2 linked regions of the Homo sapiens genome follow. The protein of the gene in region 2 interacts with the protein of the main gene of each other region in a pairwise test. Each region holds a gene or a part of one and is shown on either strand. Other genes may lie near its edges.

Region 1 (3,500 bases), on a different chromosome or scaffold from region 2:
CCTAGTAGTGTATCAAAGGAGCATATCAACAATTATTTTTAAAGGCTTTTAAAAACTATTCTCCCTTTTCCAACCAAATACCTGTGTGAGGCTGTATTGTCTTCTTATACTTCCAATGAAACATCTTAACTCCATAGACTGAAGGCAGAAACAGCTATGAAAATCCAGTTGACTTCTAAGACGGCAAAAATGCGGCCAGGTGCGGTGGCTCATGCCTGTAATCCCAGCACTTTGCGAGGCCGAGGTGGGTGGATCATGAGGTCAGGAGTTCAAGATCAGCCTGGCCAACATGGTGAAACCCCGTCTCTATTAGAAACTACAAAAATTAGCCGGGCATGGTGGCACACACCTGTGGTTCCGGCTACTAGGGAGGCTGAGGCAGAAGAATCGCTTGAACCCGGGAGGTGGAGGTCCAGCCTGGGCGACAGGGCGAGACTCCGAAAAAAAAAAAAACAGATGGCAAAAATGCTGTTCTTCCCATTATATATTTTTTATTTCAAATAATTATTTTCATTACAAAATGTCACTTAGGTTAACATGTGATAGATTTTCTAAACGAATAATTTTACATTTCTCAAGTTTTTCAGGTGAAATTATACATTTTTAAATGTGAAAAATAAAATAACATCTTAGCATTATTTACTGTAAAAATATAGTAAATAACAATAGATAAAAATCCACATAAAGCTCTGTAGAGTCACCAATAATTTTTAAGAGTGTAAAGGAATTGTGAGACCAAATACTTGAGTACTGCTGATTTAAATAAAATATCATACATCCACGCAAGTGACTACTATGCAACTATTAAAAAGTTTAAAAAAAAAAGCTTAACTGTGTGGTAAAGTTTTCCTAAAATTGATATGAAACCCAGAAACCACTGAGGAAAAGCAGTATTTGCCTACATGAAAATTAAAGACCTCTAAAAAAAAAAAAACCATACAATTCCACAGACAATGTTAGAAGACAAATGATATGGATAACCTGTTTCTTTCTGACTTAATACTCCTCCAACTTCCCTGCCTTGGGTGAGTTAGCACTCTAATATAAAATGCTTGGAAATAAACTTGAAAAGATATTCCATAACTTGTTAGCTTGAAAGTAGGGGAAAAAAAAGATAATCCAAAAGAAAAAAAATAGAAGAACTGAATAATCTGTCCTCAGATAAAAACCACAAATCATCAATATGAAAATATTTTGAAACTTCAATTTTAAAATGCAAATTGAAAATACTGAAATTGTTTTCCCAAATCAGACTGGGACCAATCTGATTGGCAACAACTTAAAAGACTAATCACATGAGTTAGCAAGGATATAGAAACCAGGAACTCTCAAACTGTTAAGTCTAAGCCAATAAAACAGAATAATGTGGCAGTATCTGCGCAAAGGTTGTTAAAGGGTAATCTTTGTTCTAGGAGATCTGAAATTTTACCCTATATATTCACACAAGTGCACAATTATGTAAGGATGTAAATTACAGCACTGTGTGTAAAAAGAAAAATCTATACAGCCATTAATGTAAACCTAATAAAATATATGGTGGTATATCAATATAATGCAAGACGGTGGTTTAAAACAATGAGGTAAAATATGCACATACAAACAGAAAAGTCAACTGTATAGACGTATGTATTAAAAAGTATACATATGTGCATTTAATACTTCTGGAATACAAACCAAATTTAACATTGACTACTCTGGGGAGTGAAGAAAGTAAAATGCAAGAAGTAAATAATGAGAAAACTGCCAAAATTGGAGCCATAAAACATAGTATTTTTCCAAATGATACTTGCTATTTTACACAAAAAGTAGAATTTATAGAGAAACTGAAGTCCCCAGAGACTTCATTTTAAGATTTAAACTTTTTTTTTTTTTTTAAACTGATGAGGACACTTAAGAATCCCTTCTTAGACTCCATTCAAGCTGTGAGGGATATATGCCTTGTTTACTTCTCCCCACAATAAAAGTGACACCAAGAACTAGGTTCACAGACAGCTAGAAGATATACAGTTTGTTTCATATCACTGAAAAAAATGAAAAAAAAATGTGGGTTTTGGTGCTACTATTAGGTTAAACTATATAAGACTGCCTCTAACGAATTGTTCAACCTAATACATGTGGTACATTGCTTCCCTGAGGAAGGATTTTATCCTTTATAGACTGTTTGACCTCTGATGTCCCACTAGCTGAGAATCTCCATTGTCTAAAAAACTGATTTGTTCCTCACTGGAGGATATACTGAACCAAAGGGTCTCCTATGAGAAAACTGCATACAGCATATTTGAACTATTTATTTCAGTAGGTCTTCCATGATGAATAAAGGAAACATTTAAAAAAATTGAGATCATAAAAAAATTTTAATAAATGAAACAATTATAAATAGACTTGTGGACTCTTTTAAGTAGAGAGTGAATGGTCTGCCCTAAAAAAAGTAAATAAAAACAAAAAAAGACAAGAAATGAACTGAAATACTTCAAGAACCTCAGAAGTTAATTCCAATTTACTTTCCTCTAGATTGTTACAATGTTTCTGAACTGCCATTTTCTTCCCACCATCAGCATTCAGTGAACTCAAGTTAATTCTCATATACCCCAGAAAATAAATAAAAACAAACCTACTGGAAAGGAGTGGGAAGAGTTGGGAAAAGCCATATAATGAACTAATACTCAATTTCCTGTTACACTATTAACTATGAAAACTTAACTAATTTTAATCTGTCCCCTTTTCTAGTCTCTCACTTACAAACCAACCAACCTTCAAACTCCACATTCCCTGGCTCTCGTTTCTCATTCTCAGTCCAACTTCAAGTCACCTGTTCTTACTCTATACATCTGTATATCTCCTATTCACTCTTCAAACTGCCCTAATCTCTTTTTCCATGTTTTATGGAACTACTCTATGGAACCTTACTAAAAAACTTTTTCCCAAGTCAGCACGGACTTTTTTAAAAGTGTTCAATCCAATGGATATTTTGACATCTTGCTTCATTTGACCTTTTTAGCACATGTGCTGTAAACCACCCTATCTTAGAATAAACCACCTTCTTGGTTTCCATGACCACCACTGTCTCTTTTTTTTTTTTTTGAGATGGAGTTTCGCTCTTGTTGCCCAGGCTGGCAGGCAATGGCGCGATCTCAGTTCACTGCAACCTGCACCTCCTGGGTTCAAGCAATTATCTCACCTCAGCCTCCCGAGCAGCTGGGATTACAGGCGTCTGCCACCATACCCAGCTAATTTTTGTATTTTTTAGTAGAGACGGGGTTTCACCATGTTGGCCAGGTTGGTCTCAAACTCCTGACCTCAGGTGATCCGCCCGCCTCCGCCTCCGCCTCCGCCTCCTGAAGTGCTGGGTTTACAGGCGTGAGCCACCGCGTTGGGCGACCACCACTGTCTTTGTATGTCCATCCTTCATAGGCATTCTTCTTCAACAAAAGCCTCCTATATGATGCTAGTATCCCCGGTCTTTGTCCTGAGTCAAGTTCACTTCTCCTTAAGGGAACTTA
Region 2 (3,500 bases):
CCAGTCACCAGCCAGAGCCAGTTTCTCTCCTTTAATATTATTGCTCAATAAATATTGCCACAGTTTATTTTTTGAGCTTCCATTTTCTAAATCCCATGCAAACCAACACCTTTCTTTTAGTACTTTTTAAGAAAAAAAAAAATTTTTTTTTGAGATAGGGCCTCACTCTGTTGCCCAGGCTGGAGTACAGTGACACCATCTTGGTTCACTACTACTTCTGCCTCCAGGACTCAGGTGATCCTCCCACCTCAGCCTCCTGAGTAGCATGGACTGCAGACATGCGCCACCACACCTGACTAATTTTTGTATTTTTAATATAGATGGGGTTTTGCCATGTTGCCAAGGCTGGTCTTGAACTCCTGGGCTCAAACAGTCTGCTTACCTCAGCCTCCCAAAATGCTAGGATTATAGGCCTGAGCCACCATGCCTGGCCACTAACTTTTTTTAATAAATACTACAAAATAACTGATGGCTTTAGCTTTCTTGTTGGGGTCATCTTTTCTCCAGATCTTCAAAAGTTTCTTCCCCATCCTTTTGCAACAGAGACCTTATGGCCCACAAAGCCTAAAATTCTATCTATCCTTTAAGAGAAGGTTTGCTGACCCCTTAGAGGAATCTTATTTTTGCATTCTTGGAAGGATTTTGTTTCATCCCTGGTTTTGAGGCAATATTATATGTTTTAAAAAGATAGAAAACTATAAAATCTATCTTGTAAAAGTATGTTTCCCTATAGACACGTCCTAGAATTCATGAGTTTTTTTTTTTTTTCTTTATGTTTGTGTTAGGGCATTAGGATTATAAGTCATTTTTTTCAAGTTTTATGTATCACCTATACATTTTTTAAAAATACATATTTAGGTCAGAGGTCCTAAAGGAGATCAAATTAATTTACTAGCTTTAGTTGCAGAATATAAACTCAGGAGCTCTTGAGTGGTCTCACATAGACAACCCTAGAAAGTAAAATGCTGCTTACCAGTCAGCTCTGTTTCATTCCTGCCTCTGCTGCATGCACATATGTGTGCCTGTGTGTCTTGGGGATGCCAGCAGTTGTTTTCTTCACGGTGTAATACTTTGGGCTGATTGCAGGTCAGAAGAACTACAGGTGTACCTTGTGTGACAAGTCTTTCACCCAGAAGGCTCACCTGGAGTCCCACATGGTTATCCACACTGGGGAGAAGAATCTTAAGTGTGATTACTGTGACAAGTTGTTTATGCGGAGGCAGGACCTCAAGCAGCACGTGCTCATCCACACTCAGTAAGTTACCCTGCAGCCAAGACGTCGTTCCTCAGGTGGTGAGCCTTTGTGTGGCTGCAGCCCACCTGCTGATTGAAGGGCTGGGGAGTCCTGGCTCATCTGTTTCATGCCTTGGTACCATGGTAGATGCCTTCTGTGTTCCATGTAGCCAAGCCAAGGTTGGAACACTTTTTTTGGTGTTATCCTGGAAGATTTCAGTTGTTGGCTTTCTTTTTCTTACTTTTCACATGTACTCTTTTTTCACATCTACAAAAACCTAGAGACAAAAAGGACTATTGACTGCAAGTGGTTGCTTATAGTTAGACGATAGTGTGCATGTGAGAGAGTGATGGAGTGAGAAGAGTAAGAGTCAGCAGCCACACTATGGAGAACCTTTGGTCCTATTAAGAAAATTCAATTTCAGTCCAGAAATAATGGCGAGACACTGAAGGATCTGCCAGCCCCTGCCATTTTGGAACTGTTCTGTTGGTGTGTGTGTGTGTGTGTGTGTGTGTGTGTGTGTGTTTGTCTGAATTGCAGTTAAAAAAAAAAAATTGTTATCTTAACTGTTTGTAAGTGCCCAGTTCAATAGTGTTAGTTATATTCACGTTGTTGTGCAAGCACTATAGGATTTTAAGGAAAGGAGTGTCATAGTGACATACCCATTCTGTTAATACAAAGATTACTTAGGCAGCTGAACAGAGGATGATTGAGGGTGGGGAAGCCTAAATATTGGAAGACCAATTAGGTATTTATTGCATGAATCCAAGTGTAATTAAATGTCTAGACTGCATTAGTCACAGTGGTCATAGAAAGAAGAGATGGATTTTGTTGTCCTTAGCTTTTAACAAGTGTCAGAAGAGGAAGAAAATGTTTTCAGCTTATGTTATGGAAATTCTCTTTAGAAATCTTACCTTCACTGAAAACGTTATATTCTTAATGTAGAATTTGGATAAACACTTGGCTTTGATACCAGTTCTTCTGTCTGCTTCCTTATCACAATGCAGCCTGAGATGCTAAACAGCCAAGGAGCCTGGATCTACATTCCTAACTCTCAGAAGGATATTCTAAAACAAAGACTTCTTTAGTTCCATTGCTAGCATGAAATTTTACAAAATTAGACAGAAATTATCAAATATTACATCAAATTGTGCAATATTGGAGCCAAAAGAGATCCCCGGATCATCTAGTCTTAACATCCTGTCTAGGCAGCTCAGGTTGTGATAATAAAATACCACAGATTTTGTGGCTCAAACAACGGGAGAGACACAGTGAGAGAAGGCAGTCATGAGCAAGCCTGGAAGAGGGCCCCCACCAGAACCCAGCCAGGCTGGCACCCTGATCTCTGACTCCAGCCTCCAGGACTGTGAGAAAATACGTTTCTGTTGAGAGAATGAAAGAGAAAGAATATGAGAGTTCCAATCTCTTCTCATAAGGACACTAATCCTACATCATGGAAGCCCCATCCTCATGACCTCATCTAACCCTAATTGCCTTCCAAAGGCTCCACCTCACACTGGGTGTTAGGGCCTCAACATGTGAATTTGGGGTGAGGGGGGACAAATATTTGTCCAGAAGACTGCCCATTATAATTGCCTGGAAAATGTGAAAAACAACAATTGGTGCTAGGACCCCATCCATGGGAATTCTAATTTAATTGGTCAGAGTTAGAGCTCTGGCCTTGGTATTTTAAAAAGCTCCCCAAGTGATTCTCGTGGCCAGCCAGGGTTAAGGACTACTGACTTCATCCACATGCAAGATTGATTTCCACAATGTCTCTGGCAAGTGGATATATTGTTTCTTAAAGATCACACAATTATAGTTTGAGGAAAAGTTTTGCTTGAATCAAGTCGATATCAGCCTCTATCCTTTCATTTTACTTTTGCTTAACAAATGTGGATCTGGACTCCTTTTCAGGGTGAGAAGATATGGTAAGCCTCTTTGCCAAACTTTCATGGGATAGAAAGAAGGTTTTGGACTGTCAAAACTTAAAGCTGGTATAAGTCATTCTTATAAGAAGCACTGTTCCCTCAAAATGGTTTTGAATGAGGCTTTAGGCTTCCTATGGAGATCGTTGGTAAAATTTTCAGATGCTTGTATTTTTACTTTGGGGCATTTCAAAGTGGATATAGTAGTATTAGCAGTCTTTTTATTTATCTACTTAAAAAAAACAGCTACAGCCCTAATGCCAAATGCAAGAGGAGTTCCCCCCCTAGTGTCCCCCGAGAGTGGAAGGGTGGTGACAGAACCTGGCTTTGCCCTTCCT

The links. Proteins that work in one complex are often made in the same cells at the same time.
Region 1: the proteins of PRDM4 (region 2) and EIF4E interact in a two-hybrid assay, tested with the Homo sapiens proteins (one large-scale study listed by BioGRID and IntAct).

The regions. Positions count from the first base shown.
Region 1 is NC_000004.12:98,898,134-98,901,633, forward strand, and holds part of EIF4E (eukaryotic translation initiation factor 4E), read right to left. Parts: intron 1-3,500. UniProt on the Homo sapiens protein: Acts in the cytoplasm to initiate and regulate protein synthesis and is required in the nucleus for export of a subset of mRNAs from the nucleus to the cytoplasm which promotes processes such as RNA capping, processing and splicing.
Region 2 is NC_000012.12:107,737,138-107,740,637, reverse strand, and holds part of PRDM4 (PR domain zinc finger protein 4), read left to right. Parts: intron 1-973; exon of another isoform or gene 974-1,086; coding exon 1,087-1,255; exon of another isoform or gene 1,256-1,511; intron 1,512-2,148; exon of another isoform or gene 2,149-2,616; intron 2,617-3,500. UniProt on the Homo sapiens protein: May function as a transcription factor involved in cell differentiation.